Linked DNA regions of Homo sapiens. The protein of the gene in region 1 interacts with the protein of each later gene in a pairwise test. Each region holds a gene or a part of one and is shown in the gene's direction. Other genes may lie near its edges.

Region 1 (6,444 bases):
GGTGACAGTGGACAAGAATGAAAAATTCTCATATGGTTTATGTTCCAGTGGGATAAACTGAAAATAGTCAAATAAATCAATGTATAATTTATCAGATAGTACACTAAACAACAGTTGTTATGGGCTTGAATAGTCAGACTCACATATTATGATTTTAAATCTAATATTACCTTTATGTTGTAGAATGATACAAGATAAGAGATAATGGTAGGTACAGCATCCTTGTTTCATTGAGAGGATCACCAACTACCCAAGTAATACACCTTCTTTTGCCACTGCCACCCAAGGAACATGTCAGGCTGCTATGGACAAAAGGCATGTTGCATGTAGGTCACCTTGAAACACAAGAGCTGTAACTTCAATTTCACACCAGTCTTTTATATTATTCTAGTCATGAGGCCCAAGGCCTGTATGCTAACTCATAGCTCCTCTAATTCAGGTGCAGTCTCACACAGCAGACTAGATAGATAAAACATTCTGTGTTTACCTTAATTCTGTGAAAACAGTGCTGTGGGAAGTCAGGCTCCAAGGTCATTTTCCAGGTGGGCCCGAATCTTCCCAGGCTTGATGTTAATTTTTTACTTATTGTTGGTGATAAATACTATGCAGCAAAGTAATGTAGAGTAAGGGAAATAGGGAATACTTGGATTGGGAAGGTGATTGCCGTATTGCAAGGAGTCAGGAAAGGCATCACTAAAAGTCAACATTGAGCAGAAGGAGGTGCATATACAAGCTACTGGGAAAAGTGTTCCAAGCAAAGGGCAAAAAGGTCTTGAAATGGGAACATACTCAGTATGTTCGTTGAAAATTAGTTAAATTGGTATGATTTATGGAATAAGGAAGGAGAGACTGGTGGGAGATTAAATCCAAGAGGTGGATGGAGAGCAAATCATGTGGGACCTGTAGATCATTAAGGACTTAGGGTTTTTTTTCTGAGTGAAATGGGAAACCTCTGGAAGGTTTTAAGTAAAGGACTGAAATGATCTGACAGGTTTTAAAAGAATTATTCTGGCTGCTATGTGGAGAACAGACTGTATGGAAACAAGGGCAAAAGCAGGGAAAGGTCAGGAAGCTATAAAATGATACAAAGTGAGAATTGATGAGTAGTAGTAGTAGAAGTGGTGAGAACATGTCAGATTTTGGTTACAAAGTTTTCTGAAGATAGAGCTGGAAGAATTTGCTTATGGACTGGATATAAGGATTGAGAGAGAGAAACAAAGATTGTGCCATGGTTTTGACATGAATAACTTGGAATGGAGTTGCCATTTATAGAAATATGGAAGGCTCTAAGCGTAATTTGAGATTGAGGAGACAGGGGTTTCATTTAGGAAGTGTTTTAATTGAAAAGCCTATTTATTAGATACGTAAGTGAAAGTAAAGTAGGAAATTGTACATATGAATTTCGAATTCAATGAGATGGAGACACAGATTTTGGAATTTTTATAAATGGTATTTAATGCTATGAGATCAGAATGAATCTACCAATTGTATTTATTAAATGTCTGCCATCTAAAAATTTAAATCTATTTACATCCTCTTTTTTTTTGAGACAGAGTTTCGCTCTTGTTGCCCAGGCTGGAGTGCAATAGCACTATCTCGGCTCACGGCAACCTCCGCCTCCTGGGTTCAAGCAATTCTCCTGCCTCAGCCTCCCGAGTAGCTGGGATTACAGGCGCCCAGCACCATGCCCAGCTAATTTTTTGTATTTTTAGTAGAGACGGGGTCTCACTATGTTGGCCAGGCTGGTCTCAAATTCCTGACCTCAGGTGATCCACCCGCCTCGGCCTCCCAAAGTGCTGGGATCACAGGCGTGAGCCACCGTACCCAGCCCACATCCTCTTTTTTGACATTCTCATTCATTTGACACTCATTCACTTCAGTGTTTTCAAATATAATACATACAGATAATGAACAAATTTATATCTTGCTGCACTGACTTCTAAACTCTAGGACCTTATTTCTGATTGTACAGTTTAAATCTCTTTAGACATCTTTTGACATTAAAAACTCAGTGTAGCTGAAATGAAACTTGCTCTCCTTCTGACGTCCCTGATGGTATCTCCATTATTCTGGCTTTTAAGGTTTGGAGCATGGTAACAATTTTAACTTCTCTCTGTGACTGTGACTACATTCAACTAGTCATTAAGTTTTATCAGTTCTCTCTCTTAAATATTTATTTTTATTTTCTATTTTCATTGAAACCATTATATTTCAGTCTTACTGTTCACCTGGACTGTTACAATATCATCCTAATTGGTGTTTTCCATTTTTCAGCTTACCTATAGATCACAGCTTAATTAATCTTCAGTGCCCATAATGTTGGCCATGTCACTGCCCTAATCAGTTACCTTCAGTGACTCCCCCACTGACTATCAAATTATGCTTCTACTTTTCTAATTTAGCTCCAACTACCTGTTTCATTTTTTATTGGTATATAGTTGTACATATTTATGGGGTCCATGTGATATTTTGATACCTGCATACAATGTGTAATGATCAAATCAGGGTAATTGGAATATCCATCACCTCAGACGTTTATCATTTCTTTGTGTGGGGAATATTCCAAATCTTCTTTTCTAGCTATGTCAAAATACACTATAAATTCTTGTAAACCATACTACTACTCTAGAACTTATTCTTAAATTCCGTACTAGAACTTATTCCTTCTGTCTAACTGTATTTTTATACTCATTAACCAGTCTCTATTCATCCCCCAACATACCTTTTAAGGCTTTTATCTTATAAGGGTAACCTGTGCTTTGGCCAGACTCTGGAACTCAGTGTGTCTCAAGTATGCCCACACTTTCTTACCTGCTTTTTACTTCTTGCAATCCCCAACTTCTATCTCTTTCTATCTTTCGAGATAGAATTCTCTTCCATAAAACCTTTTATTTATCCCCTCAATCTTCTTTTTCAAAAAGATCTCTCCCTCTCTTTTCTGAATATCTCTTCTTTTTTATACTTTTTACCATTCTACCATCATTATTTATAAATAGATATAAAATCTCCTCTAGATCACAGGTTTTTTGAGGACAAGGATTTTAAAATGTACCTTTGAATTCCCCATAGCACCTATAATGCTGCCTTGCACAGTAATGTGTTCTTTTATTTACAGTGATCATATGAGTTTTATGAAGACTTCATATGAACTTCTTGTGAAATTAAAAACAAAATCAAATTCATTTATTCAAAGGGAAATTCAAGATTTTAGCTCTTTTTGGATCCGTGTTTACATTATACCTATTTTTCTTTAAGTCATATGGCTGTGTACTGAGAAATACACATAGTCAAAAAAATAAAGTGAGAAAGGGAGAGGGGAAGAACACAAGTATCTGGTAGTCAGTCTGTCCATCTATCCATCTGTCTGTCCATCCATCCATCCACCCATCTTACTGCTGGTTGACTTGGTTCTATTTAGGGTGAAATAATTGAGATGTTTAAAAATAAAAATAAAGTTATTAAATATATGAAAGTTAAAAAATTTATGAAACATTCAAAGTGATGCAAATTATTTTGCTTAATATGCTATTTGATTAATTCTATATAAAAATAGATATTTAAAAAGACTTGTTTCAAGTACATATTTGATTACTATAGACTTAAAATTATTTAATGATAATTAATTTTAAATTAGAATTAGGATGTTGAAAATATATTTGTATATTTATAATTTTATTAATAAGTAATATAATAAGTGAAAAACAGTATTTTTCCTTAATGGCAATTCTGGGCTTCATCAACCAGAGCTACATTTAAAGCTTATTTTAAAAATTCCTTTTAGAACTCTTTTTAATGTTCTGTCAGTTTCCTTGAACAATGCCATGAGCAGTATATTGTAGTGACTCAATAAATAATAGTTGAATAAGTTTAACTTATACAGTATCTCTTAGATTCAGCATTTTTTCCTCCATTACCATCACTATGATTGTACCTAAGGTCAACATTTCATTATGTCTTCACTGGACAATAGACTTTTATTTTATTTTGGTTAGTCCCACTTCTAGACTCTCCTGTTCCAGCCTTTATACCTATTCTCTCCTGAGTAATACTTACAAAGCAGTTCAAATCATGTCATATCTCTGCTTGAAAATCTTCAATGAATTCTTGTTATCTACTAAATAAAGTCCAGATTCCATAGTGGGATATTCAGCAATCTTTCCAAGCTCATCTTCATTAATTTCCACTTAATACATCTTTATTATTTCTCACTGCTCCTGCTAAGCTGAATAGATTTCTGTTACTCTAATGCATCCTATGCATGTCTGTTTCTGTGCCTCTGTATCAGTCTCTTCATTTGAGGTGTTTTATTCTACTTTTTACTTTTTATACTAGTTCTTTATATACTAGAGTTCAAATTACTTGAAAACAGGGTTTAAGTTTGAGTCTGTTTTAACCTTCATAGTACCAAGGACAATGCCTTGCACTTAAGAGGAATACAATTAAATACCTGTATTCCTGTGTAACACTGATTCAGTGTTACCATATTTATTGTATGCAGTATGCTATAATTCAGTAGGTTATAAAAATTTTATATAATATGAAGAGCATGATATTGTAATGTTTATCTTCCTTAGGAAACTTACTTGAGAAGCCAGAAGGAGAAGATGGCTTTACATTTTCTTTTCCATCAGACACTTCAACTCATACATTTGGAGCTGGAAAAGATGATTTTAGTTTTCCATTTTCATTTGGACAGGGTCAAAATTCAATACCTTCTTCTTCTTTAAAAGGTTTTTCATCTTCCTCACAAAATACAACACAGTTTACTTTTTTTTGAGCTAGTCATTAATTCCTTAAATTATTTTACTGTTCTGTGTTCATGAGGGCATAAATTTACATTATTGCTTAAAACATGAAGACTGCTTTCTTTTATTGATTAAAGCAGTAATGTTTACATTATTTGATTATATTTATTGAAATATTGAAATACTGAATATTTTGGGTTTTGTGTGTGCTATTAACTAATCATTATTTATTTTGGTTTTGATTTTGCGAGCCGTGGTCAGGTAGAACTTTTATTAATCTTAATAGAATTTGATGCTTTTTTCATTACTCTTTATTTAAATATTAAGCCTGCTTCTCCTTGGAACCTAAGGTTTTTTTCTGGAAGTATTGTTGGTACTTTGATAAGAACAAGAACTGCAGTAGTAACTCCAGAGTTAGTGCTGAAGCGTACTTTAGCTACTAAAAATTTCTATTAAAATTATTGGGTTTCACTTCTGCTTCACTATGTAGTATACAGAGTGGTACTGTAATAATAATTTCAAATAATTTATGTTAATAACAAAATCTGTGTTATTTTCTTCTAATATAACACATGGTACAATTCTAATTTTATGAGTTATGCTAATGCTTTCAATGGCTAAAAATTAAATGTAAAGGGCAAGAGTAATTTCTGAAAATTGGATTGTTGTATCAGTGGTGATCCTGTTAATATTCTTTTTTGCTTAAATATTTTTTGAAGAACATTTACAATTTTGTCTCCTTCAATAACAAAAATTTCTTCTTTATGTTTTGTGTTCAGTATTTGTCAATTAATTATATAGCTTAAGTGAAGATATTTAAGATTTGATGAACTTCTGTAAACATTTTGCTCAATATCATTGTATTTTGTGCTTTGTAAATTAGCTGTACTGAGTTACCAAGTAATAAAGGGTTTGACTCCATATTTTGATGTGACTGTTGATGGATTTTTAAACCTAACCCCTTCTTTTCTCATTCTGCCCACATTTGGCCAAGCTGATCAGAAAGCCTGGTTGCTCCCTCCTTTGGTGCCAGTAGGAAGTTCAAACCACATATGGGAGCCCCCACCCAGCCCACCCCCTAACTACCATAAAAACCCAAAGCCAGTCTTCTTTCTCTACTTCTCAAGCTATTTTTCAGTTCAGGAGGCCTGCCCCGCTCTCCCCAGAAGGCCTTAATATATGACTAGAAAAATCTTTTCATGCCCTATTGGGATGTGTGGCATCATCAGTTTCAATATGCAAATCAAATTTTGGGTAAGGGTCTATACTGCTTCTTCAGGGTGTCTACAAATTATCACAGTTGTATTACATTAAGCTGTCTCGAAGACTTAAAAAGAAGGGCAATCTAACTAATGATAGAGTTTAAGAAAATTTTAGACTCTGTTAAAAAAAAAACCATCAAACATTCAACAACTGCTTAAAAGGTGAAAATTTCAGTTAAAAAGCTGGATTTTTTTTTTCGTTTTTTAACAGGTATTTATCTTATTGACTCTATGACTGAATTGATTGGTAGTTTTTATATAATAAAGACATTGGCTATATATGAGACAGAAGAAAAAGTTATAATTTGTTTGTTTATTGATAAATTCAAAACTAGTTTTAGCCTTGAATGATTCAGTGATTCCATGATTTATTTTTACTTTAGAGTAATGTCTAGCAGACCAGTATGGTTAGATTTATCATGTATCAATAAGTGATA
Region 2 (6,883 bases), on another chromosome or scaffold:
CATTAGTACATTTGGGTTTCTAAAAATAAAATATGTTAATGATAATAAAAGTTGACTTTATTCTGGCTCAGTTTTGTTTTGTGTGCCTTGGAAAAAAGTGATCTGATACCCAACAGAGCTGGGATAAGCAATTGCATTGAGAGTCCAGACACATGGGTGCTGGTACCACGTCCTATCACCTTACACACTGAGTGCCTTAAGACAAATCACATTACCTGTCTCTGCTAAAAAATGTAAAAGCATTATACATGTAGGCCGGGCATGGTGGCTCACACCTGTAATTGCAGTACTTTGGCAGGCCAAGGTGGGCAGATTACAAAAGGCCAGAAGTTCAAGACCAGCCTGGCCAACGTGATGAAACCCCCATCTCTACTAAAAATACAAAAATTAGCCACGAGTGGCGTCGGGTGCCTGTAATCCCAGCTATTTGGGAGGCTGAAGAAGGAGAATCACTTGAACCCGGGAAGTTGTGGTTGCAATGAGCCGAGATTGCACCACTGCACTCCTGCCTGGGTAACAAGAGGGAAACTCCATTTCAAAAAAAAACCAAAAAAACAGTATACATGTAAGAGATATAATGGCATAGGCGTGGGCATCTGTAACAGACCTAAGCTTTGGGAAAATGAACTAAAATGAATTAGTATGAAATATAAAAACAAAATCTACTTTTTAATATTAAACAGGCAAATTATTAATAAATATAAATATATGAAAACAAAAAAATACATACAAAAAACAATGTATGAAAAACAAAATATATGACTATATTTAAATATATTAAAAAACAGAAAAATAAAAATTTACAGACATTGCATATATGTTCTAGGTTGCGTATTTCAGACTGGGAACAGTTTGTAGACTAACCCTCATGCGTGGATCACACACCTTCAGCAGTGCTGGCCTGGACATGTCCAAAAGGAACTATCAGTCCTGAACGGCACCATGTCACTCATGGAACTCTCGCTACCCCTGAGAGCTCCTTGTTCTGACTTGGCTCTGAATCTTTGGAAGTTTCTCCCAAGGTCAGGCTGCAGTCTCCTTCAAATTCCAGCCCTTGGTTACTTCAGGCCAGTGCAGTGAATAGGCAGGTGGAGCGAAGTGTCCAGCATCGTCCTGGCAAGCTGACTATAGATAGCAACTGGGGTTCCCAGGTGAAGTATTTTGACTCCGCCTCTGCAGGGGTGATGGCATATTCTGTACTTTGAAGGTGTGTGGTGTTCATTGAGAAGGATGAGGACTGATCATTGCTACCAACAGCTGGTACCTCCAGCTATCTGCTCAGGGAATTGTTATTCGAGGTTCAATCACAGGGAAGATGAGACAAGTGACCCAGGAGTCAAGACCTAGATGGGCTGCAGGTGCTCTTTGTGATGAGGGAATTTCAGAAGGTAGCCTGGGCCAAGTGCAGGCTTTGGTGTCAAACAACCGGGTTCACAGCCCACTTCACTCCTGACTGGCTGTGTGGCCTGCACAAGTCACTTAACCTCTCTGAGCCTCCATTTCCTCATCTGTATACAGGAGATTATATTTCCATGTAGGGATCAAATGGGACAGTGGCCTGGTACTAGTGGCCTAGGGCTTACTGAACAGTGCTATTATAATCATTTGTCCATGTGGACTTTCTAGACAGACAATCCTATTAGCTCCCATCAAGCTCCTTGGAAAAGGCCCATCTGCCTGCGGGTATTATGTGGACTGGAAGTTGGAGATGGATTTGGAGTCTTGCTGTTCTGGTCTCAAGGGCATGTGGATGACCTCCTGCACCTGCTCTCCAGGATAAGACACTGCTCCAGCATTCAGACAGAGAACAAGCCTTTCCCACCTTTCAAGTCATTTGATCTTCACACAAACCAGACACACAGTGAATGTGAAGGGTTTGGTGAGATGGTGCTGTCTTCTAGAGGAGTTGTACTGTCTTCTAAAGGAGTTAAGCAATCTTCCCAAGGTCACATAGTTTAGAAGTAAAGGCATGAATGAATCTATGCTGTGGGTGTCCTCATGCCCTCGCCATAGTGAAATATCACGCTGTCAATGGATGCTAAGCCCGGCCTCTCACATTCCAGAGCTGGAAGGGCCCATGGTTAGTTAGCCCAATTGTGACCCTGACTTGATAGCTGGTGAACTGAAGCCAGAGAGGACACACAGCTATTCAGAGGCTCTGACTGCCAGCTCAGTGCTCTTACCACTGTGCCTCTGTGCCAGAGTTAGTGTCCTCATGTGTCACACGACAGGGTGACACAGGCTTGTGGTTGAGGGCATTATTCTATGGTCAGCCTGTGTGAGTGCCAATCCCGGATGTGTCATCATGTATACCTGGGTGACACAACCTCTCTGTGGCTCAGTTCCTGCACTGTAAAAGGGGCAGAATATAATAATACATCATGTGCTGTATAAGGACGTTTTAGTTATAGATGCACTGCATATAGCATAGTGGTCCTATAAGGTTATAAGGTAACTGTACTCTACCTTTCTATGTTTAGCTATGTTTAGATACACAAATACCACTGTGTTATCATTGCCTTCAGTATTCAGTACAGTAGCATGCTGTACAGGTTTGAAGCCTAGGAGCAATAGGCCATATCACATAGCCTAGGTCTGTGGTAGGCCATAATATCTAGGTTTGTTATTGTACTCTTTACACTGTTTGCACAACATGAAATCACCCAACAATGCATTTCTTAGAATGTATTCCCATCACTAAGCAGCATATGACTGTAATGGGGTCTGACTTGTAGAAATAAATGATTTAATAGGTATAAAGAAATTAGAATGGTGCCTTGCACATGGCAAATGATCTATAATATTAACTATTATTTTGTTATTTTTATTCATGGCTGCTATGGTCTAAATGCTCGTATGCCTCCAATATTCATATGTGCAAATCTAATTTTCAGTGTGTTGGTACTGAGGTGGTGCATTTGGGAGGTGACTGAAATAAGAGGACCTAGTGCTCATGAATGGGATTAGTGCCTTAATTAGAGAGGCCTGAGGGAGCTTGTTTAACTCTTTCCACCATGTGAGGACCCAGCAAGAAAGAGACATCCGTGAGGAACGGGGCCCTCACAAGACTCCAAATATGCTGGTGCCTTGACCTTGGACTTCCATGCTTCCAGAACTGAGAGAAATATATTTTGCTGTTTTAAGTTACCCAGTCTAAGGCATCTGGTGATAGCAGCCCAAATGGACTCAGACGATAGCATAGTTGACATTTTTACTCCAGACAAAAGAGCCAGGCCTGGAGTCCCTCCCTGTGTGTCCTCTGTCTTTCTCATCAGCCACATGAGCATTGACCTGTGGTCCTGACAGTGTCCTGCACTCTGCCCACAAAATAGGGATTCACTCCAGAAATATAAAGCCATGAGCAAGATAGTCCCTGTCCCCATCACAGAAACGGAAGGATACCTGCCAGTTCTGCTACCACCTGCACCAATATGTGACTTAACGTTTTTCTTTCAAATGATTCCTATTTCCTTAGATATTTTTATATGAAAAGCAAACTCATTAGCACCACTGAAAAAAGAATCAGTTTAACTTCCAGACATAGAAGGTTGCCATCAAATTATGCTTATTCATATCCCCTCTGCATCTCTGTTTTGCTTCCAGGACTGACCTTGATGCTTGGTTTTGTTTAAAGATTTCAAGCAGTAAAGAGATGAATATATCTAGGCCAAAGGGAAGCTTCATCATTGCTTTGGGACGCTGACCGGATTCAGACCCAGCAGTGTCACTTCGCAGCCCTCTGACCCTGGGCTGGTGGCTTGAACTCCTTTTATTGTTGTTGTTCAGATTAGAATATGGGTTCATGAATAGAAGTATGTCCCTTTAGGGTTGCTGTGAGGGTTCAACGATGCAAAGTGACTAAAAAGGGCCTAACACGGATTAATGTTATGTAGAGTAATAGGAATATGGAAGGAAAAATAACCCTGTTTCTTGCATTTTAATTTAATCCGGAATCCGCATATCACCTAAAATGATCCCTTTTCTGGGAGCATTCCACATTTTCCAAACTGTCATCCTGTGGTGGGGTGCCCGGCTAGGCTATGGGGAGACCTGGAGAGTTTTATGCAAAGGAGGACCTGGGCAAATGTGCCCATTCAGCCTCTCAAGAGTGGAGAATGCAAGGACGGGGGCAGAGCCCTGTGTCTGTTCTGTCCCTAGACATAAGAGAAACGTGGCCAACAGACCGAGGTGGGGACGGGGACAGGGACCGGCAATGCAGGAAATCCGAGTGTCACATCCTCTGCCTCTCATTTGCACACTGCTCCCTCGCTATGCTCACCGCTCCCGCCGATCCAGGGACGTGATCCAGGGACTCTGGGAAATGCAAAGCTACACACAGTGGAGCGGGGGCTGGGGGTGTGTAGACCGCCGGGATTCCGAGTTTCCCGGCACGCCTAGGAGAGGGAGAGGCAGGCAATGTCAGGGAAATTGGGCAGGCAAGACGCCAGGGACGCCACGTACTGCCAGGTTCTCAACGAGGTGGAGCCAAAGGGGCAGGCCCCGCGGTGCGCCCGGCGCTGGGCTCACGGGTTGCTGCACCCGGCCCAGGATCGCGGGCGGTGCAGACTCAGCAGGGGCGGGTGCAAGGACGAGGCGGGGCCTCTGCGCCCGGCCCTCTTCCCGGACTATAAAGAGAGCCGCCGGCTTCTGGGCTCCACCACGCTTTTCATCTGTCCCGCTGCGTGTTTTCCTCTTGATCGGGAACTCCTGCTTCTCCTTGCCTCGAAATGGACCCCAACTGCTCCTGCTCGCCTGGTAAGGGACACCTAGCTCCGCGCCTTGGGATGCCCGTTTCCCAGCCACAGTACAGACTCTTCCTGGGTTTGAAGAAGTCGCATTTAAAGTTCTGAGCTGAAGGGGCTCCTTTATTTCGTTAGGTGCTTTCTTCCCGATCACGTCCCTGAGACCACTTCTCGCCTCCCTGTGCCTCTAAGTTAGAGTTGAGGGTACTGAGGCCCAAGGCTGTCCTGCTCCATGTCACCCAGTTGGTCAGGGGGCTGCTGGCTGAGCCCCAATGCTCTGACCAGGCTCTGAGCAGTCAGGGTGGATGGGAAGTGGGGGGCCATTGCCTCTTCGGAGTTCAGGACAGAAGGTTCTGGCCTCCTGTCTTAGCCTTCCTGGGCTGTGTCTGGAGCCTGGGACCTTGCTTGTGGGGTAAAAGCAACAGAACACTTGCCCTTCCCAAAATGAAGGGAGAGGAGATGGGGCTTCTCTTCCTCTCCCCTGAGTGGGAAAGGAGCTCTGGGGGCTGGTCCTTCAGCACAGAGGAGGGGTCACTGAAGCGTTATTGACCAGCTGCTGTACCTTCTGCATCTCACTCCACGCTCACTGCCTTTTTCTCTTCCTTGCAGTTGGCTCCTGTGCCTGTGCCGGCTCCTGCAAATGCAAAGAGTGCAAATGCACCTCCTGCAAGAAGAGTGAGTGCAGGGCCTTCCCTGCGAATCTGGGGGATGGGCCAAGTTAGAGCAGGGAACCCAGAGCTCTGCAGGCAGGGGCAGGCCAATGACCAGCTTCCCCAAACCCCTCCTTCAACACCTGATTCAGAATCAGACCTCAAATTGCCTTAAAAATGGGTGAGTCCCAGCCTCTTATTACCAAACTAGAAACTGAGGCCCAGAGAGGTTACCAGATAGTGTTGGGAACAAAGCTGGAATGTGAACCTAGGTCTCCTGCCTCCTGATGCAGCCTTCTTCACCCTTCTGGGTCCTGAAGCACTTAAGGCCCAGGATCTGGAAGACCCCGGGTGATTTCAAACCTAATGATCCAGTCCTTTCCTGCAGGGGTAGCCCAGAGCTTCCCTAGCCTTCCCCAGAACTGCTGTGTCAGGGATTTGCCCCCTGTCCGGCTGTGAAGACTTTCCTCATTTAAGGGTAGGTTTTGGGGAACTGGCCTCCTTTTGTTCCTGTACCCCCAATCACTACCTGTCCAGTCTTCTGTCCTGTCCCAGACTCAGGTGGGGCTGGGCAGCTTTTTCATATAAAACCCTCATCCCAAAGATCTACCAGTTCTCTTCTGACAAAGCCATGCCATCCTGAAATGATGGTCCTCTGGGGCTGGAGGCAGGGCTCGAGCCAGGCCTCTGTTGGGGCAGGGAGGTGCCTGATTGAGTCTGCTCTGACCTCTCACTCTCCCCTTCTTCTCCAGGCTGCTGCTCCTGCTGCCCTGTGGGCTGTGCCAAGTGTGCCCAGGGCTGCATCTGCAAAGGGACGTCAGACAAGTGCAGCTGCTGTGCCTGATGCCAGGACAGCTGTGCTCTCAGATGTAAATAGAGCAACCTATATAAACCTGGATTTTTTTTTTTTTTTTTTTTGTACAACCCTGACCCGTTTGCTACATCTTTTTTTCTATGAAATATGTGAATGGCAATAAATTCATCTAGACTATTCTGGCTCTGGGCACCTCATTTGTCACTGGGTATATGGCACTTGGTTCCAGTTGGATTGTAGGAAACCCAGATTGTGGGGCATTTCAGAGAGGGGACCATGGCAGTGGGGGTCTGGGTGCAAGGTTCCTGCAATCCTGCCTGGCCTTGGCTCTCCTTTGTGAACTATGGCAAACTAGGGGGTTTATTCTACCACCCTCTAGCAACGGTTAACTGGTAGTAGCTGCCCTTTTTGTGTAGCTGTGACACAGCCTATACTCACCAGCCACCTATGGTGCACCTACTGCATACACAGGCATGGGGTCCTCAGTGGTGAGGGGAACAGGGAGCTTATGGACTGCTGGGGGGAGAGAGAATTATAGAATAAGGAATCTTATAAAGGAGAAAGTACTGTGACTGAATGCACTTGGGGTGAGCCCAAATGAAGAACTCTTTCCACTGGGATCTGAGAGCTGCATTCCTGCAGAGGGCACAGCTCCAGCAAAGGTCTGGAAGTGGGGA
Region 3 (7,836 bases), on another chromosome or scaffold:
ATAAGAAAAGGAGGCCAGGCATAGTGGCTCATGCCTGTAATCCCAGCACTTTGGGAGACCGAGGTGGGTGGATCATTTGAGGTCAGGAGTTCGAGACCAGCCTGACCAACACAGTGAAACCCCGTCTCTACTAAAAAAATACAAAATTAGCTGGGTGTGGTGGCACAGCCTGTAATAATCCTAGCTACTTGGAAGGCTGAGGCAGGAGAATCGCTTGAATGCAGGAGGCGGAGGTTGCGGTGAGCCAAGATCACGCCATTGCAGTCCGGCCTGGGCAACAAGAGCAAAACTCTGTCTCAAAAAAAAATAGAGCTGGGGTCTTGCTGTGTTGCCCAGGCTGGTCTCAAACTCCTGGGCTCAAGCGATCTTCCTGCCTTGGCCTCCCAAAGTGGTGGGAATACAGGCGTGAGCGACTGCGCCTGGTCTGACCTCTGACATCTAAGTCTCTTCACCACTATCTCTTGGGCTACTAGGGCTGTGACTGATACTGTAGCCACTAGCCTCATGCAGCTATTTAAATTAAAATTAAATAAAATTAAAGATTCTGTTTCTCAGGTCCATGAGCCACACTTGTGCTCAGTGGCCACGTGGTCTGTGGTCAGTAGCCACATGTGGGCACTGGGTACCGTATTGGATGGCACAGATTTCCATCCAATAGAACATTTCCATCCCTGGAAAGTTCTATTGGCCAGTGCTGCCTCCCCACCCCGACTTTGGCCTCCTGTCCCATCTCCTGAGTGTTGGTCATTTTCTTCCCACCCTCCCAACCCCTCAGCCTCTTCTTCCTCCAAATTCCTTGTCTTCTGCGTCTTCTCCCTGCCTTCCAAGACTTGGTTTCTCTTCTCTCCTCTTTCTTTTTATTTTTTTTTTGAAATGGAGTCTTGCTCTGTCACCCAGGAGTATAATGGCGTAATCTCGGCTCACTGCAACATCTGCCTCCCGGGTTCAAGCAGTTCTCCTGGCCCAGCCCCCTGAATAGCTCGGATTACAGGCGCGCACCACCACACTCTGCTAATTTTTGTATTTTTAGTAGAGATGGGATTTCACCATGTTGGCCAGGCTGGTCTCGAACTCCTGACCTCAAGTGATCTGCCCGCCTCAACCTCCTGAAGTGCTGGGATTACAGGTGTGAGCCACCACGCCAGGCTGGTTTCTCTTCTCTTTCTGACATTTTGTGAGAGATACCAAAATGTCATCATCAAGAGCCTGAGATACCGGGCTGAGACTGACCTGGGTTCAAGTCCCAGCTCTGCTGCATCTCAACTGTGTGACTTTGGGCAGGTCAGTTGACCCCTCTATACCTCAGTTGTCCTCATTTGTGCAATGAAAAGAGCAGTCATTCTACCTACCTCACGCACTGTGAGGCTTCAGTGAGATTGTGCACAAAATGCACAGGGTCTTGCTTGTTGTGGCCTCTCAGTAAACATTTGCTGGTGACATTAGCATCTTTCTACCTGGCTAACCCCTGGCTTCCTTTTTCCCTCAGTGTGAAGCCATTCTCACAGACACCGTTCACCTTGTCACTGACTCCCCCATCTACTGACCTCCCAGGTAAGAGCCTGCGCTCCACCCTCCCTTGTCTCCCCTCTCTCTCTTCGACCCCTACTGCCTTTCCTTCAACCTTCCATCAATTGAGGGATACATTGTTTTTTTTGTTTTATTTTGTTTTGTTTTGAGATGGAGTCTCCCTCTGTCGCCAGGCTGGAGTGCAGTGGCGTGATCTCGGCTCACTGCAACCTCCGCCTCCTGGGTTCAAGTGATTCTCCTGCCTCAGCCTCCCGAGTGGCTGGGATTACAGGTGCCCGCCACCATGCCGGGCTAATTTTTGTATTTTTAGTAGAGATCGGGTTTCACCATGTTGACCAGGATGGTCTCGATCTTTTGATATTGTGATCCGCCTGCCTCGGCTTTCCAAAGTGCTGGGATTACAGGTGTGAGCCACCGCACCCGGCCAATTAGGGGATACATTCTTACTGAAGCCCAGCTTTGAGGCAGGGTGTGTGTGTTGGGGGCGGGGGAGCCGGGAGGGGCTGGAGAGCTGAGTGGTGGAACTGGTGATGGTTAGGAGATTTTGGTCTTTGCAGCCACACACTGGGTTTGTGTTCTGCCACTTGCTAGCTTATGAGACATGGGGGAGGTATGTTAGTCAAGATTCTTTCAGCTGCAAGTGATAGAAATCCAAATCAAGCCAGCTGAAGCAACATTTTAAAAAAGAAGAGGCAGGTGCGGTGGCTCACAGCTGTAATCCCAGCACTTTGGGAGGCCTAGGCGGGTGGATCACCTGAGGTCAGGAGTTCGAGACCAACCTGGCCAACATGGCGAAACCACCCCCCCCAACCTCTACTAAAAAATACAAAAATTAGCCAGGCGTGGTAGCAGTAGCACTTGCCTGTAATCCCAGCTACTCGGGAGGCTGAGGCAGGAGAATCACTTGAACCTGGGAGGCAGAGGTTGCAGTGAGCCGAGGTGGCACCGTTGCACTCCAGACTGGGCGACAGAGCAAGACTCTGTCTCAAAATAAATAAATAAATAAAATAAAAAATAATAAGAAAAATGTATTGATTTATTGGTTCCAGTAACTGACAGTTCAGAATTATGGCCTCAGGCGTGGCTGGATCCAGCGGCTCAAGTGATGGCATCAGTCATTACTTTGATCTGCTTTCCACTGTGGTGGCTTCATTCCCAGGCAGACTCAGCTACTTGGCAGCAAAGATGGCTTCTGGAAGTCCATGCTGATATGGCCCTGAGAACTCACATCAGTGAAAGAGGGAGTCCCTTAGTTTCCATAGATTTATCAATTAGGAATACTTTTGGCTGCAAGTAACAGAAGACCCACATTAAAAGTGCCTTAAATAGTAAAAGCATTCATGTTATGAATCCATGCAACAAAAAGCCTGGAGGTGGGCTGTTCCCGTGTGGGCTTAGCAATATCAGGACTGGAATCTCTGTAGTTCCTCTCATGTCTGTCTTATTGTCCCAAGATGGCTGTTGCAACTCCAGGGATCATGTCTGTGTTGGTCCATTTGCATTGCTGTAAAGGAATGCCTGAAACTGGGTGATTTATAAAGAAAAGAGGTTTATTTGGTTCACAGTTCTGCAGGCTGTACAGGAAGCATGTTGCCAGCCTATGCTTCTGGTGAGGGCCTCAGGAAGCTTAGGACCATGGTGGAAGGGGAAGGGGAGCCACTATGTCACATGGTGAGAGGGAGCAAGAGAGCGAAGCCAGGCTCCTTTAAACAGCCAGCTCACATCAACTCAAAGAGTGAGAATTCACTTGTTACTATGGGGAAGGCACCAAGACATTCATGAGGGATCCACCCCCATGACCCAAGCACTTCCCATCAGGCCCCACCTCCAACCTTGGGGATCACACTTTTTTTTTTTTTTTTGAGACAGAGTCTCGCTCTGTCCCCCAGTCTGGAGTGCAGTGGCGCAATCTCGGCTCACTGCAACCCCCGCCTCCTGGGTTCAAGCCATTCTCCTGCCTCAGCCTCCTAAGTAGCTGGGATTACAGGCACGTGCCACCATGCCCAGCTAATATTTTGTATTTTTAGTAGAGACAGGGTTTCACCATGTTAGCCAGGACGGTCTCAATCTCCTGACCTTGTGATCCACCTGCGTTGGCCTCCCAAAGTGCTGGGATTACAGGTGTGAGCCACCGTGCCCAGCTGGGGATCACATTTCAACATGAGATTTGGAGGGGACAAATATCCAAACCATATCAATCTCCCAAGCAGGACTTGGCCAGGGCCAAAAGCTTTCTCCTCCCAAAGTTCTGTCTTTTTCATTCAGGAAGAAACTCCTTCCCAGAAGCCCCCCAGCAGATTTCCCCTAACGTCTCATTGGCTAGGACTGTGTCACATGGCCACTTCTAACTGCAAGGGAGGCTGGGAAAGTGAGTATTTAGCTTTTTCAGCTTCTAAGTGGAGGCAGGCAAGAGACAACAGTACCTGATATATTCCATAAATGTTAGCAATTTGTATTGTTCTTTCTTCTCTCTCTCTAGGGTACGAGCCCCCCCAAGCCCTCTCACCCCTGCCCCCACCTACCCCATCGCCCCCAGCCTGGCAGGCTCGGGGCCTGGGCACCGCCCGGTTGCAGCTGGTAGAGTTCTCAGCCTTCGTGGAACCGCCAGATGCAGTTGATTCTGTGAGTGAAATTTTGGTACAGTCGCTGAGGGATTTTGAAATATAGAGGGTGACAGGAAGGGAATGTATAAAGTCATGGTTTTAAAACTTTAGCATGTATCAGAATCATCTGAAGGGCTTCTTAAAACAGAGATTGCTTTCTGATTTGCTAGATGTGATGTGGGGCTTGAGAATTTGCATTTCTAATAAGCTACCAGGTGCGTTGATGCAGCTGGTCTGGGGACCGTACTTTGAGAACTACTAGCATAAAGGAACTGGAAGGTCATAGGGTGACAAGTTGGGAAGGTCAGAAAAGCTCCCCAGGACATCATTCATTCATTTATCAAACGTGTTTGAGTTTCTACTGTTCACTAGGCTTTGTGATGCATACTAGGAACTTGGAAAAGATTTTATTTCTGTGCTTGAGCTTCTCCTGGGCTAGGATGGAGTGGGCCGACTGTTAGAAGAAACAGCTCCTAACTCTTAGGGACTGAATGCCAGATAAGTTGCATGTAACATTTCAATGTAGGTTCAGCAGGAGCCTTGGACTCAAGTGATTTGGGGATCCAGGCTCCTTCCATTTTGTGGCTCTGCCATTTTCTAAGGCTTCAGAATCTGCTGATGGAGTCTCTGCATCTGGCCAGCAGATGGAGGAAGGGAGAGAGTCAAGATTGTGCAGGAGGTTTTAGGAATCTGACTTGGATGTGTCGACTCTCAGGCCTGGTCACATCCCATTGGCCAGAACTTAGTCATGTGGTCACACCTAACTGCAAAGCGGCCTGGGAAATGTAGTTTCACACTGTGTAAAGGAACCAGGATTTGTGAACACGTAGCAGTCTCTGCCACACCATATAAACATCAATCAAAACATCAACCACAAGACCTCTGTGGATTCCCATTCATTCACTCTTCCATCCATTGACCATTTATGAGCACCTGTTCTATATAGGACCAGGCCTAGGGGGTGTGAGCTTTGCCCTGGGGCTGCTGGGGAGCTATGGGAGGGCCATGACCAGGGGAGGGTCAGGGGCAGGTCTGGAGCCACATGAGGGATGAACTGGAGAGGCGAGGTTGGAGGCTGGGGTGAGGGTGGGAGGCCTGAGGTGAGGCTGAGGCAGTGAGGATGGAGTTGGGGGAGTTGTGGCAGGGAGTTGGGGACTGTAGGACTGCAGGGCTGCAGGGGACTGGGTGCAGAAGCAGGAGTGGGGACGATGGGTGGCAGTCAGGCCCAGTGCTGGGTGGACTGTGTGGAACAGCTGGCCAGAGCTGTGGGGATGGTGACGGCATTTGGTGGGCTCAGGCAGCACAGGCTGGAGATCCAGCTCACCTCCGACTTCTCACCCACGGCCAACCCTCCTCAGTACCAGAGGCACCTGTTCGTGCACATCAGCCAGCACTGCCCCAGCCCCGGAGCGCCGCCGCTCGAGAGTGTGGACGTCCGGCAGATCTACGACAAATTCCCTGAGAAAAAGGGTGGCCTCCGAGAGCTATATGATCGTGGCCCCCCCCATGCCTTCTTCCTGGTCAAGTTCTGGGTGAGTTCTCACAGCAAAATCAAAAGTGCTCACAAATCCTGTGGTGTCCCAGCAAAGGCCTCTGGCCCTGAGAGAATCTGTCGCGGGCCCTACCAGGTCAGCCTGGGACTTACCAGTCAGTCCTCATGGCTTGGAGTGTCAGCCCCCTTTGCAACAAGGAACACCGAGGAGGCCAGCCCCCAGGGTGGGTTGGAGGTGTCTGGGCCTCCCTGGATCCCACTAGACATTGCCACATGTAACTAATACGGTGAGTTACCTGGCCATGTAGCTAATAGGGTCCTGGGCATGGGCTTGCCATGTTCCAGGCTTCCCTGTGCCCCACCTGACTGCACCAAGCCGTGCTGCTAAGGAAAGACCCCTCCCCGTAGCCAGTGGACTTGTGGAGACTGGTTTCTAAAGAGGGGACTGATGCTTTGCATCAGTTTCACCAGACCTTGTTGCTAGAGAATGTCTGGCTTTGAGGAAGTGATGAAAAGAGCCATGGAGTGGCTTTGCCAAGTCCTGTATTCATTTATTTGTTTATTTATTTATTTTTGAGACATAGTCTCACTGTCACCCAGGCTGGAGTGCAGTGGCTGTATCTTGGCTCACGGCAACCTCCGCCTCCTGGATTCAAGCGATTCTCCTGCCTCAGCCTCCCCAGTAGATTGGACTACAGGCACCCGCCACCACATCTGGCTAATTTTTGTATATTTAGTACAGACGGGGTTTCACCATGTTGGCCAGGCTGGTCTTGAACTCCTGGCCTCAAATGATCTGCCCACCTTGGCCTCCCAAAGTGCTGGGATTACAGGTGTGAGCCACCGCACCCGTCCAAGTCCTGTATTTATGTAGCAATCATTTATTGAGCACTTCCTATATAGACGCCTGGTGTCAGCTGCTATTTATATGATTGGGACTAAGAGGGCCCATCTTGCGTGTTTCTTAGGGCTACTTGGTTTGGTGTCCAGTATGATGACTAACACTACAGGGGTTCAATAAATGTGTTTTATTTTCTTTTATTGTTTTTTTTTTTTTTTTTTTTGAGATGGAATTTTGCTCTTGTTGCCCAGGCTGGAGTGCAATGGTGCGATCTCGGCTCACTGCAACCTCTGCCTCCTGGGTTCAAGCGATTCTCCAGCCTCAGCCTCCCAAGTAGCTGGGATTACAGGCATGCACGACCATGCCCAGCTAATTTTTGTATTTTTAGTAGAGACGGAGTTTCGTCATGTTGGCCAGGCTGATCTTGAACTCCTGACCTCATGTGATCCGCTCACCTTGGCCTCTCCAAGTGCTGGGATTACAGGCATGAGCCACTGCACCTGGCCTAATTTTTGTATTTTTAGTAGAGACAGGGTTTTACCATGTTGGCCAGTCTGGTCTCGAACTCCTGACCTCAAGTGATCCACCCACCTTGGCCTCCCAAAGTGCTGGGATTACAAGTGTGAGCCACAGTGCCTGGCCTGGGCTCAATAAATGTTGCCTGGATGTTTAGGGGGTGCTAGTTCTTATAGTAACAAAGGTGGTGGAGGGATCTAGTCTCTGAGAAGAAAGCCTGGCTAGGTGTGGTGGTTCACTCCTATCTTCCCAGCACTTTGGGAAGCTGAGGCGAGAGTTTCGCTTGTGTTCAAGAGTTTGACACCAGCCTGGGCAACACAGTGAGACCTCAACTCTACAAAAAATGAAAAAAATTAGCTGGGTGTGGTGGTGCGCACCTGTGGTCCTAGCTTCTGTGGAGGCTGAGGCAGGAGGATCACTTAAGCCTGGGAGGTGGAGGCTGCAGTGAGCCAAGATTGTGCCACTGCCCTCCAGCCTGGGTGACAGAATGAGACCCTGCCGAAAGAAAGAAAGGAAGAAAGGAAGAAGGAAAGAAAGGAAAGAAAAGAAAGAAGGAAAGAAAGAAGGAAGGAAGGAAGGAAAGGAAGGAAAGGCCTGCTGAGGGCCTGAACTTTACTGTTCTTGCTGGGAGTGTTGTTGTTCTGGAGCTTGCTGTTCACGGTTCTGGAGCTTTCTGCCATGTGAAGCAGAAGCCTGAAACTGCTCTGGGGATGTGCAGCTGAGGGCTTAGACATTGTTGGGGCTTAAGACAGGCCTTATCAGGTCCCAGGACTGGAGAGCCACCCCCTTAGGAAGCCCAGCTGCTGAAGGGGTTCAGAGGAGCAGCTGGTAAGGTCTTTGGTTTTGCCACGGTGAGA
Region 4 (8,723 bases), on another chromosome or scaffold:
ATGCAAAGCCAACTTTTTTTTTTATACTTTAAGTTCTAGGGTACATGTGCACAACGTGCAGGTTTGTTACATAGGTATACATGGGCCATGTTGGTGTGCTGCACCCATTAACTCATCATTTACATTAGGTATTTCTCCTAATGCTATCCCTCCCCCATTCCCCCACCCCACGACAGGCCCCAGTGTGTGATGTTCCCCGCTCTGTGTCCAAGTGTTCTCATTGTTCAATTCCCATCTGTGAGTGAGAACATGCAGTGTTTGGTTTTCTGTCTTTGTGATAGTTTGCTCAGAATGATGCAAAACCAACTTTCAGAATAAAATGGTGAGCAAAAACCTGCTTAGGAGAAAGAATTTAGGTCTGAAATTTGCTTGATACTTACAGTTAGGCCAAAGAAAGTTGGATAATCCTGAGAAAATGTCAGCAAATGATTGTAACTTGTTTCTTTTCTTTCACTCTAGTATTCTATATTTTGGAGTCAATCTCATGCAGTAATTAATCGCAAAGACTCTGAAGGCTGACTACTGGGTTCAAATATTGGATCTTCTGCTTGCTAGGTTTGAGACCTTGGCAAATTAAAATCTTGAGTGAGTACCAGGTACACGATAAACTCAAATGTCCGTGTTTGCTATTATTAGTCCTCTGTGGAGTCCTAGAAATTTTCTGACACCTTCTTATTCTCCAAAATTTCCTTTTTCTAGACTTCATGAGGAAAACACACCTCTTCAGATTAATCTGTTTTTGAGATATAAGAAAATTCCAAATATACAAATTCCTTTAATAGGTATATTTTGGTTGCCTCTTCTTGATAACTGCTAGGAAGACACTTTAATCTCACCAAAAAAAAAAAAATTCTCTCTAAATTACACTTTTGTTTGCATTTTCTTAGTACCTATAAATAGTAAGTCCATCCTGTGACCTGGGATTATCAGAATGGGTGGCCTTCCTTTGATCTGAGAATTTTGCCTTTCTTGCTAGACTTGGGGACAAAGGTAACTTGTGTACCTGTAACTCTCAGCCCATGAGCTCTGTGCCTTTTTGGACTTAGTTTTCATTCAATTATCATGTAAGACAGAGAAATGTCTTCAGGGGGAAAATTCTGTCATGAAATAATAGAGTAGGAAGTGACTTCAGAGGTCACCAGGACATCTCTTTTCTTTTCCAAGAACTGAGGTTCAGAGAGGAGACATGACTCTTTTGGGGAACACAGGACAGGGCACAGGCAAAGGTGGGACTTACTGCACAGTCCTTCCTCCTACAGCACAAGTTGTAATGGTACAGAGGTGACATTAATTGATTCTGAAAAAACCTTGAAAAACAAATTAACTTAATGCTTATTTTCTTCATTCTTGACAGAAGAAAAAACATAAAATCTTGTGAATGAGATTCAAATGTCTGAGAAATTTTCTATCTATAAATGCTTTCATGACAAGGCCCAGTCAGTTATGCAATTACACTCAAGGGTGCATGCACTATTTGTGATGTTGTTTTGTAGGCATTCAATGAGGTAATACAAGACAAGTGCTTGGTTCAATGCTTGGCCCACAGGAAATACTTAATGAATTTTAGCTATTTCTATTACTATTATTTGCCTACATATAGGAATCCTCTTTTAGCCAAAAGGCTAGGTAGTGAAAGATTTGCTCATAATCTTGGATATAATTACCATATCATTCTTCACAGTATCTGAAGAGGCAGACTTCAGATAATAGCATTATCATTATTGAAATCTGGGAAAACACAGACACTAAAATATTTGCAGGCATGTTTCAATTACTCAAGTAGGTTAGAAGCAGAAAAACATATTCTTTATTTCCTGTATTTTCAACCCCAGGTTTAAATACGTCACTTTTACATGTTTTTAGTTTTTCAAATAACTAACTATAAAAAGGAAAACTGTTTTATTAAATAAAATATACAAAAGTAAACCAGACCACTCTAGAATCTGAGCAAAGGAAGTTTTGTGGGCTTCTCCTGGATACTTCTCCCCTTCCCCATCAACAGACAAGCTAGAAAAGGAGAAATAGGTTTGTTTGAACACTTCTCTTTTACAAAAATAAATAAAGAGGAACAAATATGTGGGCCACGTTTTAAAAATTGTATGTGTTTTTCCATTACTTATCGAGCAACTGCTTGCTAAGCAAGGCACTAAGTGACTTAAATGCACAAACTCATTGAATCCTTTCAACTCTGAGTAGAATGATTTTTATCATCACCATTTTACAGATAAGGAAACTAAGGCAGCTGCCTAAAGTCCCAGAGCTTGCAAATAATGGAGTGGAGATTCCTCTAAGAGGTCATGATTCCAGGATGAAACTCTTTAATCACTATCTTGTATAGTCACATTACTACACAGGTGGGCAAATAAAGAAAACAAGGACAGAAATGGACTATGATTTAACGTTGGATTTTTAACAGCAGTTAGGAATTTGCTAATTCAATACCACAGGATTAAAAGTTTTCCAACTAGGAAGCCCCAGAGAAAATGAAGACATATTTATTAAATTATAATAGGCCTTTAAATGACTGTGTGGACATGATCATACAACTTGACACGTTTTTTCACGGGTATTTCTCATGCAGTCCAGTCTGGATCCACAACATGCTCCTGAAGGGTGTGTGGCATGAAGAAGTCACTGCCCTGGAGAGCAGGGAACTGAGAGGTAACAATCCATGAGGGGTTTTCACTTTGCCCTTGCCCTTTTCCTCCTCCCTATTCCAGTAGACACTTGGCTCCGTGCTCATTTCCTCAGAAGAGGATGAAGCAGGGTGAAAAATGAAAGTTGCCTGACAGCTACTTCTCTTTCTGCTGTTAGTGCCCAAACCCAACCACAGAAAAGGAAAGAATTCTTGAGCATAGATTCTTGAAGGGAAACGATTTTCCCTTCAGGTGAACTGCTAATAATATTAACAATTGCTCTCACTCATGGATCCCTAACTATGCATTAGGCACACTTTGAAGCACATATCTGTGTACTCATTTAATTCTGTAAAAGCTTATGAGAGAGTTATTACTAATATTGTTAGAATGCTCCATGAAGATTTGTTTTTGTCTGATTTTATTTAGTGCTATATCTCTATTTATTTACTTATTTATTTTTGAGATGGAGTCTCGCTCTGTCGCCAGGCTGGAGTGTAGTGGCACGCTCTCGGCTCACTGCAATCTCTGCCTCCCGGGTTCAAGCGATTCTCCTGCCTCACACTCCCGCGTAGCTGGGATTACAGGCGTGGGCCACCACACCTGGCTGATTTTTGTATTTTTAGTAGAGATGGAGTTTCACCATGTTGACCAGGATGGTCTCCATCTCCTGACCTTGTGATCCACCTGCCTCGGCCTCCCAAAGTGCTGGGATTACAGGAGTGAGCCACCGCGCCCAGCCTTATTTACTGCTATATCTCTAGCGTTCAGAACAATACCTGGCAAAGATTAGGAACAAATAAATATTTATTGTAGAATCAATCTCCATCTAAAGGTGAAGGAGCTCAGGCACAGAGAGATTAAGTTACCTGCCCAAAGGCCCACAGCTGGTAGAAGACTAGGAGAGTTAGAGCACCCCCACCTGGGCTGGGAGAAGAGACAAGAGGATGGGAAAGCTGTGCTTCCCGAGTAGAGGAGATCTGGGACCCTCTCCTGGGACCCTCTTGTGCCTCCAGGGAGGTAGAAAGACCACAGAGAAGAAGTGGCTCTGTTGGGTACTGGGCAGGTGGAATCTCAGGCAGCGTTGTGATGAAACCACCACACTGGGGCAAGAAGGTAGCAAAATGAGAATGCTACAGGAGCTGCAGAGAGCTCCTGGCGTGGAGGCCATGCACACAAGGACAATGGATGCCTCTAGAGCAGCCTCTGTTGATCGGTGACCAAGGATCAAGTGGCTGCTCCTTCCCCAATCCTTGATGTGTTACTCTGCTTTCCTCCAGCCAAAACAACTGGTCGTAAAAGATAAAATTGTAATACAAAATGAGAAAAGTGTTATTTTTTGTATACTTGATTTTTTTTTAACTGAAGCAGTCTCGTATTATATATAGGCAGCATTATGTAAGGAAAAATATTAAATGTGTCATCAGAAGGCCTAGATTTTAATCCTAGCTTGTCCCAACAAAAATTCGCAGGCAATTTACCTAATTTCCCTATGTCTCAGTTTCCTCATTTATAAAAATAGGGATTAAAAATCATTGAGGTGAGGATAAAAAGATTTTTTTGAAAATATAAGTTAAAGCTGTCAAAGATAATAAATGCATTGTGTTAATTTTGTATAGCTCCCACTCCCATCCCATTTGCACTTGATTTTGACACACATGTATCCTTTTTTGGTGGGTAAAGGGCTACACTTGCGTCTTCTCTTTTTACATACTAGTATTTACATTTATTTTCATTTCTGACGTTTATACTAAGTGGATGTAAACATATTTTTCAAAATTAAAAGCACTTTAGAAATAAGAAATATTAAATGATTGATATGTTGCTATTGTTGCCTGTGGGAGTAATTTTCTGGAAGTTGAAAGCCAGCTGGTCATTGAAATGTTTCATGGATAATCCTCAGGCTCAGTAAGGCCCAGGCAGGCATTTTATTGGATCTTTTCACTGAGCTGTCCTAATATTATAGATAAAAATAATTCCTGCACTAAGAAGTGAAACAATAAATTTCTAAAATGTCAGGCATTTGTTACTAAATTGTAAAAGGATCACAAACAAGATGAATTGGAAACTTCTACACCAGGTTTACTTTAAACACTTTGGCTTTTCTGAGAAATGAGAGTAAATGAAATAAACCAGCAACAATGCAAATTTACAGTCCTTGCAAAAACGTGAACTATAAATTAGGGTTATTCTATCATCAGATGTATATTAGTGGTCATGACATGCCTGGCACTCCTCTTAGAACTGAGGAGACAATAGTGAAAAAGACAGTGAAGTGCCTGCCTTTACAGAGCTTACATTCCACTGGGAGAAACCAAAAACAAACAAGTTAAATACACCACATTGTTAGACACTGCCTCGAAGGAACATACAGCAGGTACAGGAGAGACTGTTTCTAAAATAGAGAAGCAAGTCATGTGCACATCTGCAAAGATGATTTCATTACATTCAGGTTTTCTTATTCTCCAGGAGCCTATGGTGTAAAACTGAAAATAAGTGAACATGTAACAGTGGGCATACATATGCAGCTATAACTTTGACTTTACCTTGTATACAAATGTGTTGGTTTATTTATACCCAGATATCCTGTATAACCAGCAGTCTTCGCAGGCTTGAACTGCCTGGCATGCATGTTTTATCTAAGAAAAGAAGGAAGAGCGTTAGGTAGAAGGAAGTTGCCTGTCCTCTCACTGGCTCGTGATTATCACTTACTCGTCATATAAACCCAAGGCACAGTCACATACCCAGGGATACAAGACACTGCAGACTCCCGAGAGACATAACACAGGTAAGTCATATTACTGAACTCCACATAGGTAATAAATGAGATATGCTTTACTCTTTACTTCAGAGTTTTTATTATTCTCATATCCTGTTTGTGACTAACTGTCTTGTGAGCTATTTTCATGATGGTGCTCACTCTGACCTTGTCTTACCCAGAACCTCTCCATATATGCGAATATGTGAAACTCAAATAGTCATTTTTAAGGAAATATAGGTACAGGAGATTTAAGAAGATCTCTTCAAGTGGATTTTAACATAGAAAATATAATCAATGCTAGAGGAAAAATCCTGTCTTAATCAGGGTTTGTTACTACTTCCAGAATTTTCCCAAGTGATTCTTCAATAACTTGGATTGATGGAGTAGAGAATATTATCTCATGGCTGTTCAATTTCTTTCCTTTGCTTTAAAGTTTAAGACTTTTACTGGTAATATTTTATATTATTTTAAGGCACATTTTGTTGAAGCATCTCCATGTTTTGATAAGAATTGCAACCTATCATCTTTTGGCTTCAGAGATGGTTTAAGGGATTTACCCCAGGCCAGGAATTTCAACTCACAGCTCCCAAAGGATATTTCAGTTATTCCTCTTGCTTTGGCTTTAATGTGAAACAGTCACTTAAAATGACATTTAGTTGATATTTGATAAAAAAAAAAAAAATAGAGCTTTCAGCTTGCTAATTCAAAGTTAAACATCCAGTGCTTGATTGAAATCAATATCTTACTCAGTCAACAACAATTCTTCTATTTCTCTATTGTCCTATAATTTAACTCCAACCTGGCAACTTTTCCAGAATTGAACTTGAAATGCCCAGGGACACTGTGAAATGAGGGAAATTAACATTCTTTACCATCAAATGTTAGGGGTAATAAAAAGCTGTTTTAATGTCAGTATATGCAAGAAGTTCCCCTGTGAACAATAGTATCTCACATGATTGCTGTCTGAATCCAATTTTTACATTTCAGAACACCAGGGTCTATATAATAGGAGTGTAAACATGCTCTAGGCCATTACATTTTGTATAAGTTTATTACTGGGCAAGTTAAGATCTGCATCTTAAACTCAAAGAAGAGCTATAGCAAATTCACAAGTAATCTTTGTTTTTATATCTCTAACTCAGATTATTGCGCAATTACTAAGCATGTAAAAAACTGTGTCTGGAATGCCCAAATATGTTTGAATTCTTGATGTGTCGTATTTAAGAGTAAGAGCTTACGTTGGCTAACATTTTGTATTGAACTGTAGAATGGTCAATACTTAATTCCTCATTTGTAAGTTTTCTATCTAACAAAATTATTCCAAAAGTTCTCTTTTTTGAACTAAAAATATTTCGGCTGAAGTCTTTATTAAGATGTTTAGTATAGGCATTGGATATTGATTAGCCTGTGTTGTCAGAGAGTTGAAATTGGATTGTTGTCATCTTTCTGGCACAGAGACTAGAATTTTTGAGACTATTTTTTACTGTGCTTTTACAGCAGTATACGGAATAATATATTGTTAAATTGTTTTATTATAAAAGTTTGTAATTTTTTCAATGATTATGTTAAAATTGCCTCTGGGATTGAATTAATCAGATGAAATAAATCAGCATTGTATTAGTTAGTTTTCACGCTGCTGATTAAGACATACCTGAGACTGGGTAATTTATAAAGAAAAAAAAGTTTGGCCGGGCGAGGTGGCTCAGCCTGTAATCCCAACATTTTGGGAGGCCGAGGCTGGCGGATCACCTGAGGTTAGGAGGTCCTGGCCAACATGGCGAAACCACGTCTCTACTAAAAATACAAAAATTAGCTGGGCGCGGTGGTGGGCGTCTGTAATCCCAGCTACTGGGGAGGCTGAGGCAGGGAGAATCGCTTGAACCCGGGAGGCGGATGCTGCAGTGAGCCGAGATTGCGCCACTGCACTCCAGCCTGGGCGACAGAGCAAGACTCCGTCTCAAAAAAAAAAAAAGAAAGAAAAAAAAAAAGAAAAAAATTTGCCGGGCGTGGTGGTTGGTGCCTGTAATCCCAGCTACTCTGGTGGCTGCGGCAGGAGAATCGCTTGAACCCGGGAGGCAGAGGCTGCGGTGAGACGAGATCACGCCATTGCACTCCAGGCTGGGCGACAAGAGTAAAACTCCGTCTCAAAAAAAAAAAAAAAAAAAAAAAAAGGGAGGGGGGCGGGCCGGGCCCGGTGGCTCACCCCTGTAAACCCAGCACTTTGGGAGGCTGAGGCAGGCGGATCACGAGGTCAGGAGATCGAGACCACCCCGGCTAACACGGGGAAACCCCATCTCTATTAAATATACAAAAAAATTAGCTGGGCGTGGTGGCGCGTGCCTGTAGTCCCAGCTACTCGGGAAGCTGAGGCAGGAGAATGGCGTGAACCCGGGAGGTGGAGCTTGCAGTGAGTGGAGATCACGCCACTGCACTCCAGCCTGGGCGACAGAGAGAGACTCCGTCTCAAAAAAAAAAAAAAAAAAAAAAAAAAAAAAAAAAAAAAAAAAAAAGAGAAAGAAAGAAAGAAAGAAAGAAAGAAAGAAAGAAAGAAAGAAAGAAAGGTTTAGACCAGGCACAGTGGCTCACACCTGTAATCCCAGCACTTTGGGAGGCCCAGGCAGGCGGATCACAAGGTCAGATGATCGAGACCATCCTGGCCAACATGGTGAAACCCCATCTCCACTAAAAAATAAAATACAAAAATTAGCTGTATGTGGTGGCGCACACCTATAATCCTAGCTACTTGGGAGACTGAGGCAGGATAATCGCTTGAACCCAGGAGGCGGAGATTTCAGTGAGCCCAGATTGCGCCACTGCACTGCAGTTCCACATGGCTGGGGAGACCTCACCATCATAGCGGAAGAGGAAGGGATGTCTTACATGGCAGCAGGCAAGACAGAACCAGAGCCAAGTTAAAGGGGAAATCCCTTATAAAATGATCAGATCTCGTGAGACTTATTTACTACCATGAAGTCAGTATGGGGGAAACCGCCCCCATGATTCAATTATCTCCCACCGGGTCCCTCCCATGACAAGTGGGAATTATGGGAGCTACAATTCAAGATGAGATTCTGGTGGGGATATAGCCAAACCATAACAAGCATTCTATAAAGTAAAAAAAAGCTACAAGAAAGAAAGAGAAAGAAAGGAAGTACCCAAGATAGTACTTTAAAAACACTGTTATTTCCCATATAAAAGAGCTTATTTCCTAATGCATATATTAATATTAAAAGTTAAATCTTCTGCAGTGGATAGCTATGTTCATATGAGTTTATATGTCTAAGTTTTTATCCAGGGTATTTATTAGTCGTTTATGTGTTCTTTGA

What was found.
Region 2: the proteins of C14orf39 (region 1) and MT1X interact in binary tests that used the Homo sapiens proteins (3 or more experiments, as listed by UniProt).
Region 3: the proteins of C14orf39 (region 1) and TEAD2 interact in binary tests that used the Homo sapiens proteins (3 or more experiments, as listed by UniProt).
Region 4: the proteins of C14orf39 (region 1) and HPGDS interact in binary tests that used the Homo sapiens proteins (3 or more experiments, as listed by UniProt).

Annotation. Positions count from the first base shown.
Region 1 is NC_000014.9:60,435,178-60,441,621, reverse strand, and holds the end of C14orf39 (protein SIX6OS1), read left to right. Parts: intron 1-4,574; coding exon 4,575-4,777; 3' UTR 4,778-5,666; downstream 5,667-6,444. UniProt on the Homo sapiens protein: Meiotic protein that localizes to the central element of the synaptonemal complex and is required for chromosome synapsis during meiotic recombination. Required for the appropriate processing of intermediate recombination nodules before crossover formation.
Region 2 is NC_000016.10:56,677,814-56,684,696, forward strand, and holds MT1X (metallothionein-1X), read left to right. Parts: upstream 1-4,656; 5' UTR 4,657-4,727; coding exon 4,728-4,755; intron 4,756-5,351; coding exon 5,352-5,417; intron 5,418-6,144; coding exon 6,145-6,236; 3' UTR 6,237-6,383; downstream 6,384-6,883. UniProt on the Homo sapiens protein: Metallothioneins have a high content of cysteine residues that bind various heavy metals; these proteins are transcriptionally regulated by both heavy metals and glucocorticoids. May be involved in FAM168A anti-apoptotic signaling.
Region 3 is NC_000019.10:49,345,016-49,352,851, reverse strand, and holds part of TEAD2 (transcriptional enhancer factor TEF-4), read left to right. Parts: intron 1-1,486; coding exon 1,487-1,551; intron 1,552-3,792; coding exon of another isoform or gene 3,793-3,895; intron 3,896-4,006; coding exon 4,007-4,149; intron 4,150-5,488; coding exon 5,489-5,662; intron 5,663-7,836. UniProt on the Homo sapiens protein: Transcription factor which plays a key role in the Hippo signaling pathway, a pathway involved in organ size control and tumor suppression by restricting proliferation and promoting apoptosis.
Region 4 is NC_000004.12:94,339,496-94,348,218, reverse strand, and holds the start of HPGDS (hematopoietic prostaglandin D synthase), read left to right. Parts: upstream 1-5,382; 5' UTR 5,383-5,424; intron 5,425-8,723. UniProt on the Homo sapiens protein: Bifunctional enzyme which catalyzes both the conversion of PGH2 to PGD2, a prostaglandin involved in smooth muscle contraction/relaxation and a potent inhibitor of platelet aggregation, and the conjugation of glutathione with a wide range of aryl halides and organic isothiocyanates.